Linked DNA regions of Homo sapiens. The protein of the gene in region 4 purifies or fractionates together with the protein of the main gene of each other region. This does not show direct contact. Each region holds a gene or a part of one and is shown on either strand. Other genes may lie near its edges. The genes, in order: SCAP, SLC9A1, SACM1L and LPAR1.

Region 1 (7,425 bases), on a different chromosome or scaffold from region 4:
CACTGCAACCTCCGCCTCCCAGGTTCAAGCGATTCTCCTGCCTCAGCCTCCTGAGTAGCTGGGATTACAGGCATGCACTACCACGCCTGGCTAATTTTGTATTTTTAGTAGAGGCGAGGTTTCTCCCTATTGGTCAGGCTGGTCTCAGACTCCCGATCTCAGGTGATCCGCCCGCCTCGGCCTCCCAAAGTGCTGGGATTACAGGCGTGAGCCACTGCACGCAGCCCACAGTCTTTTCTGTTGCTCATTGGCAGGTAAGGGTAGTGGAAGAAGGTGGTAGGGGTGGTGGGAGGAAGCCAGCGTCACTGACTCTAGTGTGGGGATGGTGGAACTCAGCAAGAAGGTGACAGCAATTTGACCACTGCCATTTGACAGTTTCTGCTTAAGCAGTCAAGGGCACTAACCTAGAATGGTTGCAGGGATGCTAAATCATAAGGAAGCTTTGCAGTGGGGTCCAAAGTTGGTATGTAAGCATAAAGATGCACGTGGATCTCAGGAAAAAAATAAAACTAATTTTCCTGTTTATTTCAGCTTCATTTAATTATTATTATTATTATTATTATTTTATTTTATTTTTTTTTTTTGAGACGGAGTCTCGCTCTGTCGCCCAGGCCGGACTGCGGACTGCAGTGGCGCAATCTCGGCTCACTGCAAGCTCCGCTTCCCGGGTTTACGCCATTCTCCTGCCTCAGCCTCCCGAGTAGCTGGGACTACAGGCGCCCGCCACCGCGCCCGGCTAATTTTTTTGTATTTTTAGTAGAGACGGGGTTTCACCTTGTTAGCCAGGATGGTCTCGATCTCCTGACCTCATGATCCACTCGCCTCGGCCTCCCAAAGTGCTGGGATTACAGGCGTGAGCCACCGCGCCCGGCCCCATTTAATTATTATTATTATTTTTTTGAGATGGAGTCTCACTCAATCTGTTGCCCAGGCTGGAGTGCATTGATGCTATCTTGGTTTACTGCAATCTTGGTCTCCTGCCTCAGCCTCCCGAGTAGCTGGGATTACAGCTGTGCACCACCACACCTGGCTAATTTTGTATTTTTAGTAGAGATGGGGTTTCACCATATTGGTTAGGCTGGTCTCAAACTCCTGGCCTCAAGTGATCCACCCACCTTAACCTCCCAAAGTGCTGGGATTACAGGCATGAACCACCATAATAATTTTTATTATGTACTTTATAATGTACACTGTATTATCACTGTAGTACATATATAATTTATATGTAAGTGTACATGTATTGGGAGCATATACTTGAATTTTTGTTGTTGGGCATTCATGATCAAAACATTTGGGAACCAGTGGCTTATTTGATATTTAGCATTTTCAGAAAGCATAAAATATACAAGGTGTTGGCCAGGCACAGTGGCTCATGCCTGTAATCTCAGCACTTTGGGAGGCTGAGGAGGGTGGATCACCTGAGGTCAGGAGTTCGAGACCAGCCTGACCAACATGTGTGAAACCCCGTCTCCACTATAAATACAAAAGTTAGCCAGGTGTGGTGGCATGCGCCTGTAGTATACCTCTAAGTATACTAGAACTATGTTGATGTTTTCCTCTCTCTGCCTTGGCCACTAGGAAGCTCAGAGTCAAGTTTGTATCCAGGGTCTTCCAGCTTGTGCTTAAGTGTTTTAATCGTCTAGATTGTTTTTAATGGTTTCTGCTCTTTGTCTCAGGTTTTACTATAAAATACATAACACATTTCCTTCCCGTTCTAAATATTACTGTGATTGTATTCTTATAGCCAAATCTTTGTTCTTATTCTTATTTTATTTTATTTTTTATACTGTTGAATCCCTCTGAGCCTTGCCTTTCCCTGCCTCCTCTTCTGTACTCATTTTTGCTAAAATTTGTAAGGGGATAAATTCTTGAAAAGCTTTGCACATTTTGAAGACTTGTTTGTTTTTTAATATTTATTATAGTAAAACTCAAATATACATCCAAATAGAGAGCAATAAGCCCTTGTGTACCTATCACTCAGTTATGTCTGTCACTTAGTCATTAACTTGGGGACACTCTTGTTTCATCTATATCCTTTAATCCTCATTATACTTTTTTTTGGGGGGAGAAGTTTATTAATTGATAGGTGTTACTTTGGGGTAAATGAGGAGGGAGCCCACTAGTATGCTGGGGAACTGGTAAGGTTTTTTTGTTTTTTTCTTGAAACAGAGTCTTGCTCTTGTCGCCCAGGCTGGAGTGCAGTGGTGCGATCTCGGCTCACTGCAACCTTCGCCCCCCTGGGTTCAAGCGACTCTCCTGCCTCAGCCTCCCAAGTAGCTGGGATTACAGGCACCTGCCACCACACCTGGCTAGTTTTTGTACTTTTAGTAGATGGGATTTCACCATGTTGGCCAGGCTAGTCTTGAACTCCTGACCTCCGGTGATCTGCCTGCCTCGGCCTCCCAAAGTGTTGGGATTATAGGCGTGAGCCACTGCGCCCCGCAAAGGTTCTTTTCTTTGGGATCCTTTCCTGTCCTTAGAGAAGACCCTTTAGCTTTCTGCCTGAGGAGCTGATGCCTAGTTGTCAGGCTTTCTTCTTGCCCAGATAAGGGTGTTAACTCCTGTGTACAGATGTTCACTTAATCCTTTTTACCAGTCCCACATCTCACTATAGCCCTATGCTACACCTGGGTTTCTCCATCCCAAGCCCCTTTAGGGTCTCTAGTGCCAGTCTTCTTCCTCATTGGCTATGTCCCCTAGGTTCTTTTTTATTTTTCCCAACGGTGATGCACTTACTGAGCAGATGCAGTAATCTTCTTACCTGAGCCTACATATAACCATTGGCCTAAATGTATGATGGTTTGCCAGCATCAGCAATAAGACTGGTAATGGGGTAAAAAACAAGTTCTCTTAAGGCTAGCTCTTGATCCCCTGTTGTAAGCTGACCAACTTAATCTGAAAATAATTTGCAGCATGTAAATATTTTAGGATTAGAGCCATCTGTATACACACTTAAAAGTAGTTTTGCTACCATTACATTAGTCTAAAAGAGTTACCTAAGAATGCCAAACGATATTTTGTTCGAATGCCTTGGTTATTTTAATTTAAAAGCATTTCTTTCAAAACCGCTTCTCTCTTCACAATAGTAGAGCTGTGGCAGTGAACTAAGAGGTCAAGGATTCAGTGAATCTGTGGCTAATTTCTTGTTCCAATCTGAGAGCTCTCTTTGCACTATGATCAAAATGGAGTCTTGCCAACTGCCCAGGGTAATAGCCTTGCAAGTCTCTTCCTTGTTGAGCAATGAATATAAGTTCCACATGGCTGGGGAGGCCTCACAATCATGGCAGAAGGTGAAAGAGGAGCAAAGGCATGTCTTACATGGTGGCAGGCAAGCCTCTTCTCATTATACTTTTAAAATTATTTGGTGGCTGGGTGCAGTGGCTCATGCCTGTAATCCCAGCACTTTGGGAGGCCAAGGTGGGTGGATCACTTGAGGTCAGAAGTTCAAGACCAGCTTGGCCAACATGGTGAAACCTTGCCTGTACTAAAAATACAAAAATTAGCAGGGTCATGGTGGCACGCACCTGTAATTCTAGCTACTTGGGAAGCTGAGGAAGAATTGTTTGGACCCAGAGGTAAAGGTTGCAGTGAGCCAGGATCGTGTCACAGCACTCCAGCCTGGGTGACCGAACAAGACTCTCAAAACAAACAAACAAAAATTATTTGGTGATTTTTTTTTTGAGACGGAGTCTCCTTGTCACTCAAGCTGGAATGCAACGGCGTGGTCTCTGCTCACCGCAACCTTTGCCTCCCGGTTCAAGCGATTCTTCTGTCTCAGCTTACCAAGTAGCTGGGACTACAGGCATGTGCCACCACACCCGGCTAATTTTTGTATTTTTTGTAGAGATAGGGTTTCACCATGTTGGCCAGGCTGGTCTTGAACTCCTGACCTCAAGTGATCTGCCCACCTTGGCATCCCCAAGTGCTGGGATTGCAGGTGTGAGCCAACGTGCCTGGCCCATTTTAACCATTTTTAAGTGTACTATTTAGTGACATTAAATGTATTCACATTGTTATGCAACCATCATCACTATCCATTTCCAGAATGTTTTCATTATTCTACATAGAAACTATCGATCCAGGAGCCATATGTAGAAAGCTGAAACTGGATCCCTTCCTTACACCTTATACAAAAATCAATTCAAGATGGATTAAAGACTTAAATGTTAGACCTAAAACCATAAAAACCCTAGAAGAAAACCTAGGCAATACCATTCAGGCCATAGGCATGGGCAAGGACTTCATGACTAAAACACCAAAAGCAATGGCAACAAAAGCCAAAATTGACAAATGGGATCTAATTAAACTAAAGAGCTTCTACACAGCAAAAGAAACTACCATCAGACTGAACAGGCAACCTACAGAGTGGGAGAAAATTTTTACAATCTACCCATCTGACAAAGGGCTAATATCCAGAATCTACAAAGAACTTAAACAGATTTACAAGAAAAAAATCAAACAACCCTATCAAAAAGTGGGTGAAGCATATGAACAGACACTTCTCAAAAGAAGACATTTATGCAGCCAACAGACACATGAAAAAATGCTTGTCGTCACTGGCCATCAGAGAAATGCAAATCAAAACCACAATGAGATACCCTCACACCAGTTAGAATGGGGATCATTAAAAAGTCAGGAAACAACAGGTGCTGGAGAGGATGTGGAGAAATAGGAACCCTTTTACACTGTTGGTGGGACTGTAAACTAGTTCAACCATTGTGGAAGACAGTGTGGCGATTCCTCAAGGATCTAGAACTAGAAATACCATTTGACCCAGCCATCCCATTACTGGGCATATACCCAAAGGATTATAAATCATGCTGCTATAAAGGCACATGCACACGTATGTTTATTACGGCACTATTCACAATAGCAAAGACTTGGAACCAACCCAAATGTCCATCAATGATAGACTGGATTAAGAAAATGTGGCACATATACACCATGGAATACTATGCAGCCATAAAAAAAGGTGAGTTCATGTCCTTTATAGGTACATGGATGAAGCTGGAAACCATCATTCTGAGCAAACTATCGCAAGGACAGAAAACCAAACACCGCATGTTCTCACTCATAGGTGGGAATTGAACAATGAGAACACCTGGACATGGGAACATCACTCACCAGGGCCTGCCGGGGGATGGGGGGAGGGGGGAGGGATAGCATTAGGAGATAAACCTAATGTAAATGACGAGTTAACGGGTGCAGCACACCAACATGGCACATGTATGCATATGTAACAAACCTGTATGTTGTGCACATGTACCCAAGGGCCAGTGGGTGGGAATTGGTATCTCATTGTGATTTCAATTTGTATTTTCTAAGGAATATTGATGTTGAGCAATTTTTCATATGTTGATTGGCCATTTGTATATCTTCTTTTTTGTTGTTGTTTGGGTTTTTTTTTCTTTTTCTTTTTCTTGAGACGGGGTCTTCTTGCTCTGTTGCCCAGACTGCAGTGGCGCAATCACAGTTGACTGCAGCCTCAAGCCTCTGGTCCCAAGTGATCCTCCCACCTCAGTCTTCCAAGTAGCTGGGACTGCAGGCATGTGCCCCCATGCCTGGCTTATATTCATATTTTTTGTGGAGATGGGGTTTCACCATGTTGCCTAGGCTGGCCTTGAACTCCTGAGCTCAAGTGACCCATCCACCTCAGCCTTCCAAAGTGGTGGGATTACAGGCATGAGCCACCCCACCGAGCCTGTATATCTTCTTTAGAGAAATGTTCATTCAAGTCCTTTTCTCACTTTGAGTTATTAATTGTTATTTTGTTGTTATTGTTGAGTTGTAGGAATTCTTTACAAATTCTGGATATTAAACCCTTGTTAGATATATGATTTGTGAATAGTTTCTCCCATTCTGTTGGTTAGCATTTCACTCTCTTTATTGTGTGATTTGCACAATTTTTAACTTTTTTTTTTTTTTCTTTTTTAAGACAGAGTCTCCCTCAGTCACCCAGGGTGGAGTGCAGTGCTACAGTGTTGGCTCATTGCAGCCTCCACTTCCTGGACTCAAGCAGTCCTCCCACCTCAGCCTCTCAAGTAGCTGAAACTACAGGTGCACACCACCATGCCTGGCTAATTTTTTTTGTATTTATTTTTTTTTAAGATATGGGGTCTTGCCATGTTGTCCAGGCTGGTCTCAAACTTCTGAGCTCAAGCAGTCCGCTTGCCTTGGCTTCCCAAAGTGCTAGGATTAAGGCGTGAGCCACCACGCCCGGCCAAAAGTTTTTAATTTTTATGAATTCCAGTTTATCAATTTTTTTCTTTTGTTGCCTATACTTTTCAATCCTTGCTAAACTCAGCATCATGAAGATCTTTTTCTTATATTTTCTTCTAAGGGCTTTACAGTTTTAGCTCTTCTTTTTTCATTTATTTGATCTATTTTGAGTTAATTTTTGTGTATAAGAGTCCAACTTCACTTTTGCGTGTAACTATCCAGTTTTCCCAGTAGCATTTGTTGAAGAGACTGTCCTTTCCCCAGTGACTGGTCATGGCATCTTTGTCAAAAATCAGTTGATTATATTTGTGAGAGTTTATTTTTGGGTTCTTTTTTCTTCTTCTTTTCTTTTTTTCAGGTTAGATGGGTAGTGCTGACATCATAACAAGGTTCAAGAATGACTCATCTCACATGTGTGTGAAACACCCAGGTATCATACTGATGAACTACAGAAGATCTGGGCTCTCTATTGTTTTATATGTCTGACCTTATGCCAGTACCACATTGTTCTGCTTACTGTAGCTTTATAGTAAGTTTTGAAATCAGGAAGTGTGAGTCCTCAACTTAGTTCTTGTTTTTCAAGTTTGTTTTGGCTATTCAGGGTTCCCACTTTTTTCTTTGGACAAAGTAATGGGGAGAATTTCTTTCTTTTTTTTTTTTTTTTTTTTTGGTTTTTAAGACAGTCTCACTCTGTTGTCAGGCTGGAGTGCAGTGACGCAATCTTGGCTCACTGCAAACTCCACCTCCTGGGTTCAAGCGATTCTCCTGCCTCAGCCTCCTGAGTAGTTGATATTACAGGCACCTGCCACCACGCCCAGCTAATTTTTGTATTTTTAGTAGAGACGGGGTTTCACCATGTTGGCCAAGATGGTCTCGATCTCTTGACCTCATGACCCACCTGCCTTGGCCTCCCAAAGTGGTGGGATTACAGGCGTGGGCCACTGCACCCAGCTTTTTTTTTTTTGTTTTTTTAAACAAGTAAATGGAAAGAAATCCCACGTTCATGGATTGGAAGACAATATTCTTTTTTTTTTTTTGAGACGGAGTCTTGCTCTGTCACCTAGGCTGGAATGCATTGGCGCAGTCACTGCTCACTACAGCCTTGAGCTCCCAGGCTCAAGTGATCCTCCCACCTCAGCCTGCTAAGTAGGTGGGACTACAGGAATGTACTACTGTGCCTGGCTAATTAAAAAATTTTTTGTAGAG
Region 2 (7,425 bases), on a different chromosome or scaffold from region 4:
GGCACTGTCTGGCGATTTATGGGGCCAGGAAAGCTCTGTGGATTGGGTTGATGGCACAGAGTGAGGGTAGGAGGCATTTTTAGAGCCCGACCCCTTAGGTGGAGGTGGAAGCCATCATCTGCCTACCCTGGACTATCTCTTTAGACTCTGCCTTCTCTTAAGGCAGCTCTTGGTGCTAACGCCAGGACAGGGGCAGGGAGGCTGTGGAGGGGGGTCAGCATGCAGCTGGCTGGAGCTGGACTTCCGGCCTTGGGAAGGTGCTTTCTGGCCCCTGCCTGTAGGAGCTCTGCTCCCCTAAATCTTCATCCTGCTTATCTCCGCTGCGCTGTGCCTGTCTCCCCTCCAGCACACTGCAGGTCTTTGGGGTCTGATGCCATTGTCTTGTCTCAGCTGCTTCTGCCTGGGTTGTCTGACTGATCTCGGTGGGTGCCAGGAAGAGAGAGAGGAACCTGGGAGATGACTGTGGATTGAAGGTTATGAGAGAGGGAAGCACCAGAAGATTCCTGCCCTAACCTGAGCAGACAGGTGGTGGTCAGGGAATGCTTCCTGAAGGAGGAGGCAGGCAGAGGATATGGTGTCAGCCACATATGGTGGGGGTAGAGGTAGAGGAATGATTTCTAGAGAGAGGAACTAGACTAGGTGAAGATTGGCAGGCAAAAGAGGATGTGGCTCATATGGGGCAATTGCAAGGAATTTGGCAAGGCTGAAACCTAAGAGTTGACAGTGGGGAGAATGGGACATGAGGCAAGAGCAGATGACAGAGGCAGTGCTGAAAATGTGGGCTTTATCCTCTACAGCAAGAGAGACTTGGGTCCAACATGACTAGCCCTTCCCAGTGGACCAGCCAGCTACACACTGGATGTTGACTGGTGGACAGTACAAAGACTGGGGGACTTTTCAGCAAAAGGGGTGATTTTGGAATTATTTTCCCTTTTATTGATGTGGGAAGTAGATGAACAAAAAGTGACTTTTGGTCATGTCTATTTTGAAATCAGGAGAATGCACATGGTGCCTTCGAGGTCCTCTTGGCCTAGGATGGAGACATCTTTTTTTCCCAATGTGTTTTGAGTGTCTTCAGGGTGCTTGGCACTGTGCCAGGATTCTGGGCCTGGATAGTGTTCAGTGTGTGAACTTTTTTTTTTCAAGATGGAGTCTTGCTCTGTTGCCCAGGCTGGAGTGCAGTGGAGTGATCTTGGCTGGAGCTCAGTGGCGTGATCTCGGCTCACTGCAACTTCTACCTCCTGTGTTCAAGCAATTCTCCTGTCTCAGCCTCCCAAGTAGCTGGGAATACAAGCACCCACCACCACGCCTGGCCAATTTTTATATTTTTAGTAGAGACAGGGTTTCACCATATTGGTCAGGCTGGTCTTGAATTCCTGACCTCAGGTGATCCACCCACCTCGGCCTCCCAAAGTGCTGGGATTACAGGCGTGAGCTACCGTGCCCAGCCAGCAGTGTGAACTTTGACTTGTCACCGTACTAGCACTGCCCAGATTCCTACCTGAGAGTAGGAAGGGCTTTGGGCATGGAGAGGGAAGTTCCTCCTCTGTCCCAAGGATCTCAAGAGTAAGTAATGAGAGCAGAGGCCTGGCCAGGCATGCAGGTTATCGGAAATCTTGGGTGATGTCCCAGCCCTGTGTATTTTCAAGTCAGCTGATATTTGTTGAGCACTTCTTGTGTCCTAGCCCTGGGTGTATAATGATAAGCAGTTATGGGATCTGCCTGCACAGAGCTTGCAAGATAGGGAAGGGGAGGAGAGAGAGCTTTGCTTTCTTCTTTCTTTTTTTTTTTTGAGGCTGGGCTCAAGTGATCTTCCTGCCTCGGCCCTCCTAACTAGCTGAGACTACAGGTGCATACCATGCCCAGCTATTTTTTTTAAGTGGAGATGAGGTCTCCTATGTTGTACAAGCTGGTGTCAAATTATTGGCCTCAAGTGTTCCTCCCACCTCAGCCTCCTAAAATGCTGGGATACAGGCATGAGCCACCATGCCAGGCCAGAGAGAGCTTTCCTCTTGAGCAAAGGGACAAACCCTCTTGGCTATGCCAACCCTGGGAGCATAGTACCCAACATACAACTAGATGCTCAGATTTTTTTCCACCTACTTTCCCACCCCAAAACAAAACAAACAAGTAAACCACTCACAGGAGCTCAGGGTTCTCTGGCCATACCTGATATTGAGAGAGGCCCTCTCAACGGGGATTTTTGCTACTCCTCAGCTCTGGGTTTGAAGCCTTAAGGTGGACTACAGCAGAGCGGCCTGTTGCTGGCCAGGACACGGCCTGGGGAGATGGCTGGTGGGTCCCAGGCAGAGGGGTGTGTGAGGAGGCCTTGATGGGAGGGAAGGATAGGAGAGCTTGAATTACAGAACTGTGCAGTTTGATGGGAACTGGGGCATCAGACCTGTGTTCTATTCTAGTTCTGCTCCCCACTTGCTGTGTGACTTTGGGCAAGTCCCTTCCCTTTTCTGAGCCTTAGTTGCCCCATCTTTAAAGTGGGTGGCATTGAGCTAGAAGCGGGATAGCAAATAGATTTTATCTCACCTGCCAAAGCTGGTTGCCACTGACATCCTTGAGCCGTGTCTTGAGCAGCTGCCTGGACTCAGTAGGAAAGCCTACTGTTTTGCAGGTTTGCAGACCCCAGGCCTTATTATCCCCAAGTTCCTTCCCACGCTGGTATTCTTAGATTCTTCTGTGCTTTCTTCTGTCTCCTATGCCACTCCCCACCAGCTGGTTGTCTGCCTTCTGCTTAAACAGCTCCGTGATAGGGAACTACCATCTTCCCTCAGACAGAATTGTTAGATTGTTATTCCTCAGGTTGAGCTCAGATCTGCCTCCCTGAACTTGTGCCTGGAATAATGCCTTGGGTTCAGGCGTAGGTGATGCCCGTAGGTACTTGGCACGTCAGTAATCAATTTATAATTTCTGCCTTCTGGAAGCATATAGAACTGCTGCTTTCTAACATTTTATGACAGTGACAGAGATAGCATGTATATATCCTTTGAAAAAAGTGCTTTAAAAACACTGTCACTTGGTTTATGATGGCAAACCTGTGAAGCTAGCATTGTCCCTTCCATTTTACAGGCGAGGAAGCGGAGGCTCAGAGAGTTAACAGAGCAGCCCTCTGAGACCCAGCCTGTGCACCTCTCACCAACTGCGCTCCTCATCCCCGGCCCATCCCCAACCTTCTATTCTCCTGGCTCCTCCGAAAGCCCATGGCCTCCCGTTCTCTCGCCCTCCGCAGGTTTCCATGTGATCCCCACTATCTCAAGCATCGTCCCGGAGAGCTGCCTGCTGATCGTGGTGGGGCTGCTGGTGGGGGGCCTGATCAAGGGTGTAGGCGAGACACCCCCCTTCCTGCAGTCCGACGTCTTCTTCCTCTTCCTGCTGCCGCCCATCATCCTGGATGCGGGCTACTTCCTGCCACTGCGGCAGTTCACAGAAAACCTGGGCACCATCCTGATCTTTGCCGTGGTGGGCACGCTGTGGAACGCCTTCTTCCTGGGCGGCCTCATGTACGCCGTGTGCCTGGTGGGCGGTGAGCAGATCAACAACATCGGCCTCCTGGACAACCTGCTCTTCGGCAGCATCATCTCGGCCGTGGACCCCGTGGCGGTTCTGGCTGTCTTTGAGGAAATTCACATCAATGAGCTGCTGCACATCCTTGTTTTTGGGGAGTCCTTGCTCAATGACGCCGTCACTGTGGTGAGGAGGCCAGGGGCCATGCCCATGTCCAAACGGTACAAACCCAAATCCAGGCCCACCAGTGAATCCCTCATCCACCCGCTAATAACAGTAATAAAAACAGCTGAGGCACATTCCCGCTTCCCGTATGCCAGGCACCATGCTGAGCCCTTCGGCATGGATTATCTCATTTAAGTCCTCATGGCTGCCTTAAGAGGTGCTTATTATTCTCATTTTCCAGGGGAGACACAGGCCCAAAGAAGTTAAATAACCTGTTGGAGTATGAACCAGTTTGTGATTGAACCAGGTCTGACTGACTCCAGGGCCTAAGCTCTTGGTTTTGCTAGGTTATATGCTCCCTCCTTGACTTGACTTGCTTTTTGTTTTTTAAGAGACAGGGTCTTGCCCTGTCTTCTAGGCTGGTGAACTGGTACGGTCATAACTCACTGCAGCCTCAAATACCTGGGCCTGAGATCCTCCTGCCTCAGCCTTCCGAGTGGCTAGGACTACAGGCATGCACCACCACACCCGGCTAATTTTTTAAATTTTTTGTGGAGATGGGGTTTGACCATGTTGCCCAGGCTGGTCTTGAACTCTTGGCCTCAAACCATCCTCCTGCCTCGGCCTCCCAAAGTGCTGAGATTACAGACCTAAGCCAACAAGCCTGGCCCTTCTCTTGCATTTTGATGTGAGCTTGGGCAAATTACTTACACTCTCTGTGCCTCAGTTCCCTCTTCACAGACCATATCATCTGTGAGGGGCCTTTCAGCTCTCATGTTGGCTATATCTTAAGTTAGAATTCGGTTTGTGCACAGTTTTTGGGCGGAGATTATGGAAAGGGGCCTTGTCTCCAAAACATCTAGAAGGTGATAAGTAAAAGAAGTTGGCCACTTGCTTGCTGTGTGACCTTAAGCAAATGCTATACCTCTGTGGCCCTCACCTTTTTTTTTTTTTTTTTTTTTTGAGATGGAGTCTTGCTCTGTCTCCCAGACAGGAGTGCAGTGACGCAAGCTCAGCTCACTGCAACCTCCGCCTCCCAGGTTCAAGCAATTCTCCTGCCTCAGCCTCCCAAGTAGCTGGGATTACAGGCGTGTGTCACCATGCCCAGCTAATTTTTGTGTTTTTAGTAGAGACTGGGTTTCGCCATGTTGGCCAGGCTAATCTCGAACTCCTGACCTCAGGTGATCCGCCCACCTCAGCCTCCCAAAGTGCTGGGATTACAGGCATGAGCCACTGCGCCCAGCCAGCCTCACCTTTGATAGCTGCAAAGTGGCAGAGGATTAGTGCTTTCCTCCAGGGTCTGCACGTGGTAGCACCATATACACCTGCACATGCCCTTCCTCCCAGCTGGTTTCCTTGGGAAACAGATGTGTGCATGTGCATGCTCACGTTGTGTTGTGAGAACACTCCCACCCCCTCCTGAGCTGTCCCGCTCAGAGCAGCTGCACACACAGGAAAGCTCAAGGGCACATGTGCATTCCCAGGCCATGACTCCCTCCTCTGCAGCCCCAGCCTTCAGGAAGCAGCACCTCAGAGTAGAGACAGACTGTGGTGTTCAGCTGCTGGCAGCCTCAGCTTCCTGTTCCTCCCACGCCTCCTCATGGGGCTGGGTAGAATAGCCTGACCTGAGCAGGCAGGCCTCCATCCTGGCTTCCTCTAGCACTAGCTCTTGCCCAGGGTTACCACATGAGCCTGAGTTTCCCCATCTGTGACACAGGGATTGCAGTACTCAGCCTGTCATCCTCCCAGGCTTCTTACAGGATTACTTACATTAGTGAGTCATACTCACTAATGTCTGTGAAGCCAGTGAGTGCCAAAGATAAAGCCCTCTCCAGTGGGATCTGGGTGTTGGGGTTCAGGTGAGCACTGCTGTGGAGCTTGGGGCATGGTTGCATCAAGCAGGTAACAGACCCAGCCATTTGTGGACCCATGGTCATGTCTCCCAAAGGCAGTGGCAGCGGTGGTAGTGATTGCTGGTGTTCATTGGGTGCTTCCTGTCTGAATGTGTATTGCCTCATTTTTATTTATTTATTTAGAGACAGAGTCTCCTGTCACACAGACAGTGTCACTCAGGAGTGCAGTAGCACAATCATAGCTCACTGCACCCTCAAACTCCTCAAATGATCATCCCCTCTTAGCCTCCCAAGTAGCTGGGACTGCAGGTGCTGGCCATCACACCCAGCTAATTTATTTATTTATTTATTTATTTATTTTGTAGATATGGGGTCTCATTATGTTGCCTGGGCTGGTCTCAAGCTCCCGGGCACAAGCGATGCTCCCTCTTTGGCCTCCCAAAGTGCTGAGATTACAGGCGTGAGCCACTGTGTCTGGCCTATGTTGCCTCATTTAATCTATACAGTAACTCCATGAGGTTGACACAGTTATATTCCAGTTTTTTTGCGATGAGGAAACTGAGGAACGGAGAGGTTACATAAGCCTGATATATGATATAGCTGAGGTTCAAATCCGTAGTCTGAGTCCAAAGCCCAAGTGCTTACCACTGTGTTACTCTGTTTCTCTATAGTTCCAGGGGTAATAGCACCAGGCCAGAAAGGAGGACTTTCCCCTCTGTGCCGACTCCATGGGCCCATGTGGTAGACCATGAGGACCCATGAATCCCCTCAGGCCAGGAATGAGTTTAGCCCACGGCTGAGTACGCACCTGCTAAGAGGCTGTCTGCCGCTGGAGCCCTGTCCTATCCCCCAGACAGCTGGGGCCAGGCCGCACCAGGCCTGGCCAGTGCTCTGCATCTCCCCTTGCTGCCTGGCCCAAGTCAGGTCTTTCTGGAGCTCTTGGCATAGGTGTGAGTGCCCCATTTCCCAGAGAGTAAAGCCAGAGGCTGACCCTGAGCTGCCTGGTCTCAGGTCTGTGCCCTAGACAGGTCACTCCTCACGGTCCATTCCTCCTGCTCCAGGTCCTGGGGGCTTTGGAGGGTTCCCTGTCATGGATCCTCACGTCCTTCCCTCCCTTCCCCCAGGCCTGGAAACTCCCTGCTCCTTCCTGGCAGAGCTGTCTAGGACAGACTTGAGTAGGCCAGGCAGCTCAGGGACCTAGCAATAGGAGGGGCAGATCCTCAAAGCTGAGCCTGCTGGGGAGGCCTCAGCCATGGCTGTCAGGGAATAAGTTCTGGGCCCAGTTCTTCTGCTCCTGGGCTGGGGGCCCCCTGGCGTGTTGTTTTACCACTGTGAGCCTCGGTTTAGCAAAGGAGCATCCTTGACCCACCTGCCTCGCATGGTTGTTGAGTGTCGACTCAGATAAAGACTATCAAAGGGCTTTACAGTGTATGAAGTGCCACTTAAACATCTGATGGTAGTGTTGCAATGACCATCTATTTCCCAGTCCAGGAGACAGGGATGCCTTAGCCTCTAATTCCATAGCATCTGAACTTGGCTGTTCATTGCAACCCCTGGGGTGCTTGTTACATAGAGATTTCTTGGCCCTATCCCAGAGAGTCCAAGTCCAGTATGGCCTGAACATGTGTATTTTCAGAAAGCTCCAGAGGTTAAGAAATGACATTCTAGTTCATTGTGTGAACGTCCCTTTTTTGTGCTGAAGGAGGGACTGAAACCCAGTGATGGGCATGACGTGCCCAAGGTCAGGCAGTGAGAGGCAGACTTGATAGCACCAGATGTGGCTAACACTGCATCAGGTAAGGCTCCGAGCACTTGATTCGCTGATTTAGTCCTCACAGCAGTCCTAAGATTTGGTATTATTATCCTCATTTTATAGACAGGAAAACTGAAA
Region 3 (7,425 bases), on a different chromosome or scaffold from region 4:
GTTAGGTATACTGCCCCAGCACATTTCTCTACCATTTAGAGAGAGACATGAAGGACATAGGAGTGGTGTGGAAGGGACATTGCCCTGTAGTGTCAGATCTCACGTCCTGATGCTTTAAGCTGCCTGCTGGGAAATGATTAGCAGAGGTCTGTATCCCTTGGGGGTGATGAAAGAGAGAAAGAGAAGTATTTTCTGTCTCTACTTTCCATTTACTAAGACAAATCCTTTGGTTATGAAAAGCTTTTGCTTTTATCTTTTTTGAGAAAAACATGACCTTTCAGTAAGAATTTTTCTAAATAATATGCTGACCTTTCTATTCATAAATTGTAAGGTTGCTTTAAAAATGGGCCTTTTATCTGAGTGGCACAATATAGTCTCATTCTACTAGCCTTTAAAGTTAAACAATAAGGACTCCTATTTCTACCTTTAGAGTTACTATTTTTATAATTATGTGTGTTTGGCTTGCTTTTTGCAGGTAATTATCTTATAGTCATTACCAAAAAGATAAAAGTAGGTGAATTTTTCAGTCATGTAGTCTGGAAAGCAACAGATTTTGATGTCCTTTCTTATAAGAAGACAATGTTGCACTTAACTGATATTCAGGTAAGAACTGGAAATTGTTACTAATTGCAGCGCCCAAAGAAGTAGCATGGGCTGGGGAGAGGAGGGTGAGGGTGTTGTGGAATACAAAGAATGCTATAATTATTTTAACAACCTATAGAGTAAGATCACTCTACCTACTTTTCTACCTAGGCATAAAAAATATTTTTTAAATCATTTGTTGCTCTTGTTTTTTTTTTTTTAAAGATTCAGTTCTTAAATTATGCAATTTCATATGGAGAGAAGGGAAAACAGAAATGCACGGGTACTCAACACCAGATTTAACTTCATATCCTCTTTGTAAAGAAATAAAATATAAATACCTTTGAAGTTCTACTCCTCTTAACTCATTCCCTTCTTTCCCAGAGAGGTTTTCTCTATTTTTACCACATGTGAATGTAAGTGTGTGTGTGTGTTTATGAAATGTGTATATATTCTTTCAGGCAGTTTTCCTTTTGCACTATTCCTGTATGCACAGATTTCAGTAACCATAGTTTAGTTAACACCAGTACCCAAACAGCATGGCTTAAATTTCAGTTACTCCAGTTTATTAACTGAAGAATTAACCCACCAAAGATGAAGGTGCAAAAAAACAAAAAGCAACAACTCTGGAAGAGAAATTGAAATTGAACATAAATGGAGCATAGAAGAAGTAGCTGACCATGGGAATGCTGACACTATTCACCATTCAAGGGACAGTAGGTATGCAGCCAGAGGTCCTGGTGCAGGCGAACTGACCGACATTAATGATGGAGTGGCTGTGACGAAAGGGATGACAGTATCCCAGAGAAAGTGATGCCTGCAACAGACTTCCCATTAAAGGAAACCTTGGAGATATTTCCCAACATTGAAAGTGCAAAGGATAAAATGTCAGAAGTTGGTTTAGACTTAGGAAGGTGTATGACAGTTCACCAGGGATAGAAGAAATATTCTGTATCTTAATCTATATGACAAGAAGGCGGCAAGCACTGTTCAAGTCTCTTGATAAATTTTTTTACAAAGAAAATATTTTTTATTCTCGGTGTTTCTAATGTTTTAAATTATAGTGTGCTAAATATTAGTTTTACAATTTGTTCATTTATGCTTATAATTTACTATATATAACTTACAAGTTACATCTACAACGTAACTATATAAGTTAATATCTATAACTAATATCTATAACTTACAATAGAGTTTTTAATGTTTTGACAAAAAAAATTTTTAAAGGTCATGAAACAGTCATAGTTTTTACAATTGACTGTTAAGATAGCTTAAGATTATTAAGATGAAAATAACATGGTAATTTTTACATTCCCACTTTACAAAGTAAAGACTGCCTGTATTCATATTTAAACAGGATCTGTTTTTGCTCGGAGTGTGTATGAAACTTACATGAATGGCATTGCCCTGTTCTGATTCTTTGAAACTTACTTTTTAAAGTCAACATTGTTTAGAGATATATATACCTGTTGAGAGTGATTGTTTTCTTAATGTAATTTTAGTTACATGTTTGCTATTTAAAAATTTTAAGTTGTATTTTTACACCCAATTTATAAGAATGTTTCTAGAAGAAAATATATTATTCTAAAACATATAACTTAGGATAAACATTTTAAAAAATAAAATTATAGCACTGCCTACCTGAGTAAAACTACAGGATATGCTTTTTATACTTTAGAATTTCTTTTTTATTATATATATCAAGAAATATATATCAATATCTTCATTCTCTACTAGGCATATTTTAAAGAAATAAAAACAGCTGTATTTATTTAATAGACCAGTCATATTTACTTAGACAATTTCTTCTCGATTGTTATTCTTTGTTGTCAAGCTGTGTAGCTAATTTTAAAAACATGTCTGAGCACAAATAAAAAATTTTGTATATGTAGATTTGTAACATGTAGATTAACAAGTTAATCATTTAGTAATGATTAAACGTTACCAAACATTAACAATTGTTTTTTAAAACAAGGATAAAAACAAATGTCAATCTTAGTATTCATTGGGAAAGCTAGTTAAAATGGTTTCCCAAAAATAAAGATAAATATTGCTTTTACTGGACTTTTTAATCTTTGTTTTAAAGAAAAAGAATTCCATTTTACTTCTCGTCCATCCCAAACCAGGGAACGTTTCTTGAGAATGTGGATGATGTTAGTATCTTGTTATTTGCTGTTTGCATTATTGGGCCCGTCGTAAATTTATGTGTTTTATTTGTCGAAGATAGCTATGCTAACTTAGCAGGGCTGTTGTGAAGATTAAAGGGAATCTTTGGAAAATACCTGGCACACAGTAGGTCATAACCGAAGGTGATGTTTTGTTAAAACTACTCTTCTGCCTTTGAGAATAAAATTTGTAAAGGATACAAAGGGGAGGAGTCCTACCTAATCAAGTTACCTAATAGTACCCTACAGTGTTTATTGAGTATCTTCTGTGTGTCAGGAACTGTCCTACATCCCAGGGAAATGGCGAGCATCCCCCTCACTGGCTCAGTCCTTGTGCCAGTAGTCTTTAATGAGACTGGACTTAACAGGATTTAATTTGTATTCTTTTCTCATGCTGGCAGATTCCTTTTCAATTATGAGCTATACTGATTTTTCTTTGTTTATAGTTACAAGATAATAAAACCTTCCTAGCGATGCTAAACCATGTCTTGAATGTGGATGGATTTTACTTTTCAACAACATATGATTTGACCCATACTTTGCAGCGGCTATCCAACACTAGTCCTGAATTCCAAGAAATGAGTCTCTTGGAAAGGGTAAGCTTGATCTTCAATTATTTTTATTTTTAGGTTTTTAAAAGGGACATGTCTCTGTTTCATGCATAAAAATTTATATTGATTTTTCTCAGTCCTGGCTATCTTAGAATCATGTATGAGGCTTTGAAAATATACCCTGTTTTAAATATACATCACAATCCCAGTGTGTGAGTCCTTGAATCTGTGTATATATACAGCCAGAATTGAGAATCACTGGTGTAGATATTCAGAAATCTTTGTATAAACACACATGTAAGTTATTAGAGGAAAATCTTTCAGAATTTGTATTTCTGCATAAGTATTACCAGGCTACCAAGTGCTAACTCTCAGATGTCAAATCTTCAAACTAGCATTGCATTCATTTGTAATTTCTTAACTCTCAGTGTTCGGTAGTGTAGCAGTTACATTAGCAGTGTAATTAGGCTTATAAAATTCATATTCTAACAGTTGATATTTCTTCTGTAGTGATGCTTATTTATAATTTTTATAACTAAAAATGTAACAAAAGTCACTAGAACTTGGAAAATATCCTTTTAAGGTTTTTTTTATTTTGCTTTTTTTTTTTTTCTTTGAGACAGAGTCTCACTCTGTCACCTAGGCTGTAGTGCAGTGGTGCGATCTCAGCTCACTGCAACCTCTGCCTCCTGGGTTCAAGCAATTCTCATGTCTCAGCCTTGTAGGTAGCTGCAATTACAGGCGTGTGCTAACACGCTTGGCTAGTTTTTAGTAGAGATGGGGTTTCGCCATGTTGCCCAGGCTGGCCTTGAACTCCTGGCCTCAAGTGATCCACCCACCTCATCCTCCCAAAGTGCTGGGATTACAGGCGTGAGCCACTGTGCCTGCCCAGTCTGCCTTTTTTTTTTTTTTTTTTAATATACAGTGAATATATCTTTAAAATTAGGTTTCATATGATCTCAACTTAAAGTTTCTTTTGTTCAGGAACCTGGATGATTGCTACCTGAATTTTTTTTTGACACACCTTAGAAGTGTTTAATGAGAAGACAGAATTTAAAAGGTCGCTCCATCTTACTTATTAGGTTGGACAATGTGAAGTCGCCAGTAATTGACCATTTTTGACCAATAAAAATGGTTATTTCATGTGGTTCAACCTAAATTAATATTTTAGTTGACTGGCTTTTTTGGGTGAGATTTTCAACTCTAATTTGGTAAAATTGTATGTAGGCTTAGATGGAAGTTTAGGTGCAGGCTAAGCATTCAAGAAACTTGGCTTTTAACTACAAAGAGACTTGCTTTTAAAAGCAGTTGCTACATTCTCCATTTGTTTATGAAACATCTCTACAACGTCAGCCATGTACCAGGAACTATACTAGCCCCTGGGGACCCAGAATGAAGCTGTGGACCCTGTCTTGTGGGAGCCTACAGTCTGCTGGGGAAGTGGTAGTCAAAGAATGGTTGCTATAATGGTGATATGTACCAAAGTGAGGTGGGATCCTGAAGGAATGAGGGTCTTTGCCTGAGGTTGTCAGGGACAACTTTATAAAGTAAGGTATCTACAGAGGACAGTAACTTTACACAGAAAGGTAACTTTTGAGCTGAGACTTGATGAAGATTTGTTGGTCAGGTGACAGTGGGCCGGGGGGTTCCAGGCAGAGGTGGTGGCAGAGGCTAAGCTGCAGAAAAAGCCATCTCATCTGTTGGGATGAGATGGGAATGTTTTGTCAGCTAAACAGAAAGTTAGCCAAGTGTAGTGGTTCATGCCTGTAATCCCAACACTTTAGGTGGCCGAGGCAGAAGGATTGCTTGAGTCCATGAGTTCAGGACCAGCCTGGGCAACATAGGGAGACCACAGCTCTACAAAAAAATTTAAAAATTAATCAGGTGTGGCGGCACGCACCTGCAATCCCAGCTACTCGGGAGGCTGAGGTGGGAGGTTCACTTGAGATAGAAGCCACAGTGTGCTGTCATCACGCCACTGCACTCCAGCCAAGGCAACAGCAAGACGGTCTAAAAAAAAAAAGTTAATGTTAACATAGGGAATCATAAAAGTGATAAATGGAACATATATACCCTAAATATTTTAACTTAAAACCTAAAAGTTTTACATTGGTCAATGTTTTTATGTACGGCCATAGGATTTTCTTTGTTTTTGGTTCCTTGATTCTGAATTGTCTTCCCTGTGTAAATTACATCCATAGGGCTTTCCCATTTGGGCCACTTTAAAGACTTTGACACTTACAGAGAAATCTGTGTGCAGAATCCTGTACATTTTTACTATGTTCTTTTATATTTTTTTAGTTGCCACTCCCACTCCAAATTCAACAGCAGTTTTGTTTTAGCAACTTGCCTCTTATCAAGTTACATTCCAAATCATTTAACTTTATAGAAACAGCAGTGTGTTTTTCATCTTATTTCATTGGTTTATAAAATAGTTAAACTATATAATGATGAAATAATAATAAGTATGACTGGTACAAATTCAGGAACACACACTTGAATCTCAGGAAGTGCGATTCAGCTGGTTGTGGTCAAGTGCAAAAGCCATTCCCTGTGACTTTTAGAGTCGGCGGTGCTGGTGGTTCAGTTGGTATGCTTCATAAATAGAATTGATTAATCTACTGAGTAGAGTCAGTTATTTTGTTTGTTTTTTCTTTTTTGAGACAGAGTCTTGCTCTGTCACCTATCCTGGAGTGCAGTGGCACGATCTTGGCTCATTGCAGCCTCCACCTCCCAGGTTCCAGTGATTCTTGTGCCTTAGCCTCCCCAAGTAACTGGGACTACAGACACGTGCTACCACGTCTGACTAATTTTTGCATCTTTAGTAGAGACATGTCGGCCAGGCTGGTCTCGAACTCCTAAGTCTCAAGTGATCCGCCTGCCTTGGCCTCTCAAAGTGCTGGGATTATAGGCATGAGCCACCACGTCTGGCCCTAAGTAGAGTTGATTAAATATAGATTGTTGAGGGAGCCTCTTCTGTATTTATGAAAGTTGGAGTGGCCAGAGATGAGATCAGAGAGTTAATTAGGGGCTGCCAGATCCTAGGACTGATTAGGCCATGCAGAGATTTGGTTCTTTAGATGACAGAGTCATTGAAGAATTTTGAGCAGATAGGAGACAGGACATGTTAGAGAACTCCTGCTGGTAGCATTGTGGAAAAATGAGTGGCGAGGGCTAATGCCTAAACTGGAGGCAAGGGAAGGTGTGTTAGTTAGGCTGGAGTCAGATGTTGGTAAAGATAGTGGGAGTAGAAATGTAAAAAATATGGATTTTGAAGGAGATTTAGTACTTGACAATTAAATGTAAGGGAAAGAAATACCGTAAAACTCCTCCCAGGTTTCTGTCTGGCCTGAGACAATGAGACAGAAATGCCCACAGGAGGTACAGATTTGCGGGGGAGATGTATTTTGTTTGAGGCCTGTCAAAGAAACTGGCTTCTAGCCATCAGAAAGAGACATTGATTGGTGTAGTTTTCTTTCTGTAGAAAGTAAGCTTGGCAGGAGATATTTTATTAAATTTTAAAACTTCTCTCAGGCAGATCAGCGGTTTGTATGGAATGGTCATCTTCTAAGAGAACTTTCTGCACAGCCAGAGGTAATGTACACGAAATAAAATCTGCTTAATTGTTACAGTCCAAGCTTTAATTCAATGCATGCTATAAAGTGACTTCCTAATCACCAAGAATTTCGAGAAACAATTCTAATTTAACTGTTTATAACTTACAAACTTGGATCAGGTCTACCCTGTCACATCATTCTAGGTTGAAGAAGCCTAACTATTTTACTCTGATCTTCTATAGAAGCCTTAAATAAAAATACATTGCTTTGTCTAACTAAGAGAGATACAGGGGATCTTGGTACATGGATAATGGAGAAATGAGGGGCCAGGGCCAAGTTTCCTGGCCAAGGGGAGAGCTCTTTTTTGTCTTCCTTTGGGGATGAGACTCCCTTCAGTCACCCAGGAGAGACATGCACAGGCACCGCCCTCTTCTGTCCTTTGTCTACACATATGAGGTATAAACAGGGAGGCCCAGCTAGGGAAACATGATATATTATTGAATCTAGGTAAATAGATGTGTCTAATTGCTTTATTTCTTGTCATTTGCTATGCTTTTTTTGGAAAAGTAG
Region 4 (7,425 bases):
CAAAGCCCAGTCAGCACAGCTAGGCAGTTTCAACAGAAACAAATGAGATCACAGTGTTTCAATTTAATAGCACACACTGCTTGCTGTTCAAATGTTATAACTAAATACAGCATGTGCTGCTAGTTGTTTTGATTAAAGGGAAGTAGAATAACATGGAGGGGACAAACACATGGGTTCTGAAACCCAAGTGCCCAACCTTGAATCCCAGCTCCTGACCTTGAATCCCCGTTCCTATACTTCCTAGCTGTGTGGCTGTGGGAGAGTTACCTAACCTCTCCTTACCTCAGTTTTTATCAACTGGAAAATAAGGATAACAAATCAATAACAGTACCTATACGCCATAGGGTTGTAATTTACAAATACTAATTTCTAAGGTAGCACATGATTTATGCCAAATAAGTATTTCACAACTAAAAATAATTATTAAGATCCAGTACTCACTCAAAAGCAGCTTAATACAAGATCATGCTTAAAAACCAGCCATTGGTATTGCCCATTATTAATCTCAAAGATGACTTTATTTTAATATAACTTGACTCATAACAAGTCAGTTGCTGACCAACAAATTCTTCTTTTGATCATGAAGACTGAATAGGTCTAAAACCCAGGGATCATTTTGATGAAGTGAAAATGGAAACTGAGTAATCATTCCCAGAATAAATGGAAGTAAAACAAACATATTATTTACTGAGCACCCATTGTAGCCAGGAGTTTTCCAGGCTGTTGTATTTTAGAAGGCATAGAACATAAAGGTGTCGCTAGGTTTGGCTCCCACATAGCTGAATAAAGTGGCATTTACTGTAGTGAATTCACTACGGCTCTGGTCTTCAGTTTTGAAGGCAGAGAAACTTGGTTTTGTCATCACATGCATTCCCTCAGCATTTATTGACTACCTACTTTGTACCAGATAGCCGTGACAGGCAATGTGGCAACGTGGAGAAAACAAACAATCATTACAATCCTGCCTGCCCTCACAAACCTGGCAATCTGGCAGTGAAGACAAATACTAAAAACCAAATGTACACAAACTAAAGTAAAATAACCAGATTATCAATGGACTAATTTACAAAGAGAAGAACTTCGAGTAGACCAGAATTCTTGTTCCTACTGAAGTGGGAGACCAGCAGGACTTGTTTTCACAACGCTGCTGATCAAAACAGGATGTAGCAAAGAAACCAATCCAAACCAGCAAGGACCAGGAATCATAATACATTTGCATTAGACATTCCTACCAGCACCATGACGGTTTACAAATGCAATGGCAATGACTTGGAAGTTAACCTTACATGGTTTCAGGAACTCCCCACCCCTTTTCCAGGAAGTTCATGAATAACCTGTTTAATTATATTTAGCATTAAGAGTGGGGGCCCAGGCATGGTGGCTTATGCCTGCAATCCCAGCATTTTGGGAGGCCAAGGCAGGAAGATCACTGGAACCCAGAAGCTCAAGACCAGCCTGGGCAACATGACAAAACCCCATCTCTACAAAAAAAAAAGAAAAAAGAAAAAAAAAAATCTGGGTAGCTGGGTGTGGTGGTATGCACCTGTAATCTCAGCTAATTGAGAGGCTGAAGTGGGAGAACTGCTGGAGCCTAGGAGGTCCAGGCTACAATGAGCCAAGATCATGCCACTGCACTCCAGCCTGGGTGATACAGCAAGACCCTGTCTCAAAGAAAAAGAAAAAAGAATGGGTATAAATATAACTAGCCAGCAATCCATTAGTGCTGTTCTGTGCTACCCTGCCTATGAGATAGCCCTGCTCTGCCTTTGGAGTGGTCACTTGGCTGTACACTGTTACGCTAACAAACTTGCTTTCTTTCACTGTTGGTTCACTCTTGAATTCTTTCCTGGGCAGAGCCAAGAACTCCCCCAGGCTGAGCCCCAATTTTGGGGTTTGCCTACATTATGACAAGACCAACCCATGTCTCCCATGTAACCGTGCCTATCTAAGGATGGACACTTACAATTCAAATAGGGGAGCATACTGTAGGAATGGCATTAGGCACCACGCCTTGAAAAACATCTGTTAGGATTGTGACTTCCCCATTCTAAACTTTCCAACCACTCCCTGCCCACATCCTGCCCATTCTCTTATTCTTGCTACTTTTCTCAAAAAGGCTACGGTCCATTTAATTTCTGTTTCCTATATTACAATCTTATTCCCATCTTTCTTCACCAAATACCTTCACCTATCACCGTGACGGGGTTTTCCATGTTCTGAAAGTTCTTCCATCTCACAGCTTTAAAAATCATGCTCTTTATTCCAGAGATGTCAACTGCATTCGATCTTTGTGGAGTATACTAGTTTAAATATTATTTCTGTTATTTTAAAGTTAGTGGTTGTGCAGTGGTAGTAGTTGGGCATGGGAAAGTGGCATTTAGGGCAAATGTACACTGAAACACTAGCTCCTATAGCCTCAAAATGATTATTTCAACCTGAAAAACAACCCAAAGAGGCACAAAAGTATGTGAATCATTCAGTACATTGCACACTGGAATACACAAGATATTATACAAAGGTCAAAATTAAAACAAGAACTTGGCAGGTTAATAGTCCAAGTTCAGTAGTCATTTGCTGCTGGCAATTCTGCAAACTATGAGTAGCACTTGTCGTAATAGAAAAAGTTCATGCATATAAAAAATGTCAACCAACATTTAGGTCATCAGCAAATAAATATTTGAGTCAATACAGGAAAAAAGTCTCATGTTATTTAATGTCTCATGTTTTATTTCATACAAAAATAGCATCCATGGTAAACAAAGATGTGTTTTATCCACATCATGGAAAATGTGGCCTTGTGGCACAGGTGTGCTTAAGGTCCTGTTAATAAACATACAGAGAAACCATTTTTGTAGTTCTACTAATCTTCATTGGATGCAATAAGACAATCTCATATCTGAGGTGATGGGGTCCTCAGTGTTTCAGTTAGTTAGGCAGGGTTTTAGGTGTGTCAGTGATCCCAAGGCTTAGTTGCTATTCTCACAGGTCTACAAGAGGGTCAACAATGAGTATAGCTGAAAATGATGTCCATGATGCAGTCATCCTAACCAAAACAGACGAGACCTATGCATCAATCTGAATACTACTTTATATAATGATCAGCAGGACCCTGTCTCCTTCCAGTGGCTAAAATTAAGGTAATTCCCAGAGTTTCAGAGGAGCCACATAATCCCATGTTACATTCACCCAAAAATGCTATATAAATTGGAGCACAGAGAATTATAGGAACTTTCCATTGAATTTCTGTGGGGAAAGAGGAGGTGATAAAATGTTTTTTTTCAATTTCCATAGGGAAAGATGAAATGATAAAAGGTTTTCAAAAAAGATTTTTTAATGTGATCAAACGTTAACCTGAATATAGTCTATGGAGAATGTATAATTCCATTGGGTAATTATTTTAAAAAACTCTCACTCTACTCTCAGCTCCAAAGGAAATGTCTGTATCTGTCCTTTTCATGGAGCCAGCACAGAGCGTAGAACATAGTAGGTGCTCTTTAACTACCTTCTACACACATAAGTGAATATATTCTTCTTGATCACTACTATGAATTTTTCATCCAAGAAAAACAATGCTTATTTAAAAGCAGAAGGTATTTGAGTCTACAAATCTTGCTCTTCACCTTGAAATATGAATTAACCTCCACTACTACAAATAGAAAATTAATAGAAAATAAGGAAGTTTTCATGAAGATGACTGTCAGAGAATATCATTAATTCCAATCTGTTTTGTTCAGTAAATCTATATAAAACCTTGATATACTACCTATAATGTAGCAACAATTACAGAATAGACTAACAAAAATAACTATATATGGAAGCATATTCATATTCTACAAAAGCACTTTCTGTCTGAAAATATGTAATACAGAAACCACAATGCAAAAGTTTCACAATTTAGGCTGTAAGAAAAATGAATGAGTTTGACTGGTAATTCTGGTATTTTCAATATTAGATAGCCAAACTCTTCAATGACATCTTTTACATCATCATCATTTATACTGCACCACTGGGACCCATGTTTCCCTAACGCTAATTCTATAATTTTAGGAAGACTCATAAGCTGACATTTAATATAAAGGTGCCTCATCCCCTTGTAATTCCTGGTGAATTACCTGGTGAATATTCATACTGTTGGTTACCTCTGACATAAAATAATGTGGTTTATGTTAGTCACTGAGAATCTATAAAGTAAGTTACAGTCAAGACAGAACTTACCAAGCACAATGACCACAGTCTTCAGAAGACTCATCATGGTATCCCGATTCCGCCGGGGTCCAGAACTATGCCGAGACATTCTCATAGTCCTCTGGCGAACATAGCCAAAGATGTGAGCATAGAGAACCACCATTACCACAAAGGTCACCAAGTTGAAAATGGCCCAGAAGACTAAGTAAGAGTCACTGTAGAGGGGTGCCATGTTGGAACAATTTTCAATATCACAGATACAGTTCCAGCCCACACTGGGTATAGCACCCATAACGATGGCCATAGTCCAGATGACCACAATGACCACCACTACCCGCCGGTTGCTCATCCGTGTGTGGAGCTGCATGCGGAAAACCGTAATGTGCCTCTCGATTGCAATAGCCAGTAAGTTGGCCACAGATGCCGTCAGGCTGGTGTCAATGAGGCCCTGACGAAGGAGCCATGTGCTAACAGTCAGTCTCCGAGTATTGGGTCCTGTGTTGAACATGAGATAGAAGTAGGCCAACCCAGCAAAGAAGTCTGCAGCAGCCAGATTAGCCATTAGGTAATAAATAGGAAAATGGAAGCGGCGGTTGACATAGATTGCCACCATGACCAATAGGTTGGCCAACATGATGAAGATACAAACAGTGATTCCAAGTCCCATCACCAGCTTGCTGACTGTGTTCCATTCTGTGGCAAGATGCTTTCCACTTCGGTTATAAAAGAAGGCAATGGACTCGTTGTAGAAGCACTGTGGTTCATTCATGGCTGTGAACTAAAAGAAAAAGGAGAAAAGATGATGAAAAAGAAGGCACAGGTCCAAATTTAAAGCTTATATAGATAACACAAGACTTTTATAGTACATGCAACAGAAAAACAAAAGCAAATAATTTGAACATTTGATCCTGCATACCATCTTGTGATTATGTTGAAACTCCAAGGTTTCTCACAATATTACTGTCCTTAAGATTAAAGGCAGTTGGAGTTAAATAAATGACAAGGTCTCTGCTTAGTGGTTTTATGTCATTGAAGTCTACTACAAAAGCCACATGGCCAAGAAATCTTGCTTAAAATACATGAGACAGACAAAAATTTTGCAGAACATTGCAATTGGAATATTTACCATAGTAAAATCTATTTGACCTGTTATTTAGGGAATCTGTAAACACAGTTGGTTTCTAGATAGGGTATCATTGCCCTATTATTCTGCATTTCTATTCTCACACAGTATGTTCCATGTGGGACAGACATTTTGTAATGCAGGTTCCCACAAGGACCATCATTCCAAACATTTCAAACAAGTCACTGTGCATCAAAGGTTTTTTGCCCAAAGCCAGCATTTGCTGCTCAACATTCCTGTGGTCAGCACTGCCTACCCCCACAACTCCTTAAGTTCAGAATAGGACTTGTCAACCAATCTATGACATTTGAGAATTTTTTTTCTTTTTGGAGGACCCAACGTAACCTCCAAAGAGTAGGTGACCCTTTGACAATGTTCTACAAGTAAAATATACTTAGATTAGATGCAGCATATTTTTTAAAGTGTGGAGTGAAAATGCTTTATAACATGTTTACTTATTCTTCAACATCATTGATAAGAATATATTTGCTTATTATTTACAATATTTATAATAATCACTTTAAAAAGGATTGAGACAGTTTAAAACAGAATAATATATGTTTATTTATCTATCATAATATATAATATATAATTATATATAATTATAATATGTAATTATATATAATAATATATTTAAACAAAATTAGAAAATAAGTAACAAACTAGAAATTAGAAAAGTATACATCACATAGAGTAAGTCATTCTTCTTGAAGCTCTAAGTTTACCTGGGACCCCTAAAATTAAAAAATATATCTTGAAGACGGTTCACATTCTACTTTTTCATTTTTATTTTGCTTTGAATCTAATAAATTACCCAAAACATATGACACTTTTAACCACTATTTTTGATCAAATATTCTACTGAATATCCATAGGTTGTACACTAAAACTTCCAAGAACAACGTGAAATACTTAAGTGGTTAGTCTTCTGACTTACCCAGGCATCTAAAGTCTCTTTCCTTATCTAGACTTTAATAGCTTTTAGATTATGCTTCAAATATTATACTTAATACATTGTATAATTATTTATCTCTTTACTTGTCTGCTTCTTAAAGAGATCACAGTCCAGGGCACAGTGGCTCACATCTGTAATCCCAGCACTTTGGGAGGCCAAAGTGGGTGGATCACTTGAGGTCAGAAGTTCGAGACCAGCCTGGCCAACATGGTGAAACCCCCTCTCTACTAAAAATACAGAAATTAGTCAGACATGGTGGTGGGCACCTGTAATCCCAGCTACTCAGGAGGCTGAAGCAGGAGAATCGCTTGAACCCGGGAGGTGGAGGTTGCAGTGAGCCAAGATCATGCCACTGCACTCCAGCCTGAGTAACAAAGCAAGACCCCAACTCCATCTCAAAAAAAAAAAAAAAAAAGACAAAGTTGATCAAGCTGTTTCCCCACTGGACATGTTTTAAGGGCTTATGAGTGCACGTTAGATAAAAGTCTAAACTTTTCAATCATCTTATCAGACCTTACTTACCTGCCTCTCCAGCCTCAACTCAAGATATTAATGACTCCAAACTCTCAGCTTCAGCTCTATTTAATGTGCTGTGCTCTCTCTCTCAACTCTGGTTCTCAACAGTGAAAACAGTGGTTTCTTGTATCAGAATTACCTGAGAGTTTGTAAAACACTGATTGCTGACATAACCCGCAAGAACTTCTGATTCAGTAGATCTGAGGTAGGGTCCCAAGTAATGCCAAGGCTGCTGGTCCAGGGAATCACTGTATCATAATTGCTTAATTATCTGTTGATCCCCTCTACACTAGGCTATGAAACCCTATAAACGCAGAGATTCTAGCTTGCTTATTCATTGTTGTATAGTATCCAACTGTTCTATGGACTACATGCTAAATACATATTGATTTCCTTAATAAATTAAAGATATTTCCAAAAATGTTTAAACTTTACAAATTTTCTTTCTGCAAAGGATATTTAAAACTTTGTCAAGACAAATATAAAAGTCTGTTCTTTTCATTAGTCTCTATAACCATCTACCTTCTCTGAATCAAGAAATGTTTAAACCAAATATCAAGCGTATATTATTTCCCAGCATTCCAACTTCTGAACACCAAGTAGCAACAAAGTTAAGCAGAGATATATGCAGCTTCTTAGCCCTTCC

Evidence for each region.
Region 1: the proteins of LPAR1 (region 4) and SCAP purify together in Homo sapiens (affinity purification with mass spectrometry; 4 studies listed by BioGRID and IntAct, with this or other methods). This does not show direct contact.
Region 2: the proteins of LPAR1 (region 4) and SLC9A1 purify together in Homo sapiens (affinity purification with mass spectrometry; 4 studies listed by BioGRID and IntAct, with this or other methods). This does not show direct contact.
Region 3: the proteins of LPAR1 (region 4) and SACM1L purify together in Homo sapiens (affinity purification with mass spectrometry; 4 studies listed by BioGRID and IntAct, with this or other methods). This does not show direct contact.

Annotation. Positions count from the first base shown.
Region 1 is NC_000003.12:47,465,600-47,473,024, reverse strand, and holds part of SCAP (sterol regulatory element-binding protein cleavage-activating protein), read left to right. Parts: intron 1-1,509; exon of another isoform or gene 1,510-4,972; intron 4,973-6,576; exon of another isoform or gene 6,577-6,676; intron 6,677-7,425. UniProt on the Homo sapiens protein: Escort protein required for cholesterol as well as lipid homeostasis.
Region 2 is NC_000001.11:27,110,103-27,117,527, reverse strand, and holds part of SLC9A1 (sodium/hydrogen exchanger 1), read left to right. Parts: intron 1-3,241; coding exon 3,242-3,702; intron 3,703-7,425. UniProt on the Homo sapiens protein: Electroneutral Na(+) /H(+) antiporter that extrudes Na(+) in exchange for external protons driven by the inward sodium ion chemical gradient, protecting cells from acidification that occurs from metabolism.
Region 3 is NC_000003.12:45,706,305-45,713,729, forward strand, and holds part of SACM1L (phosphatidylinositol-3-phosphatase SAC1), read left to right. Parts: intron 1-475; coding exon 476-603; intron 604-3,193; coding exon 3,194-3,343; intron 3,344-6,832; coding exon 6,833-6,892; intron 6,893-7,425.
Region 4 is NC_000009.12:110,937,206-110,944,630, forward strand, and holds part of LPAR1 (lysophosphatidic acid receptor 1), read right to left. Parts: intron 4,964-7,425; coding exon 4,216-4,963; coding exon of another isoform or gene 4,136-4,215; exon of another isoform or gene 2,707-4,135; intron 1-2,706.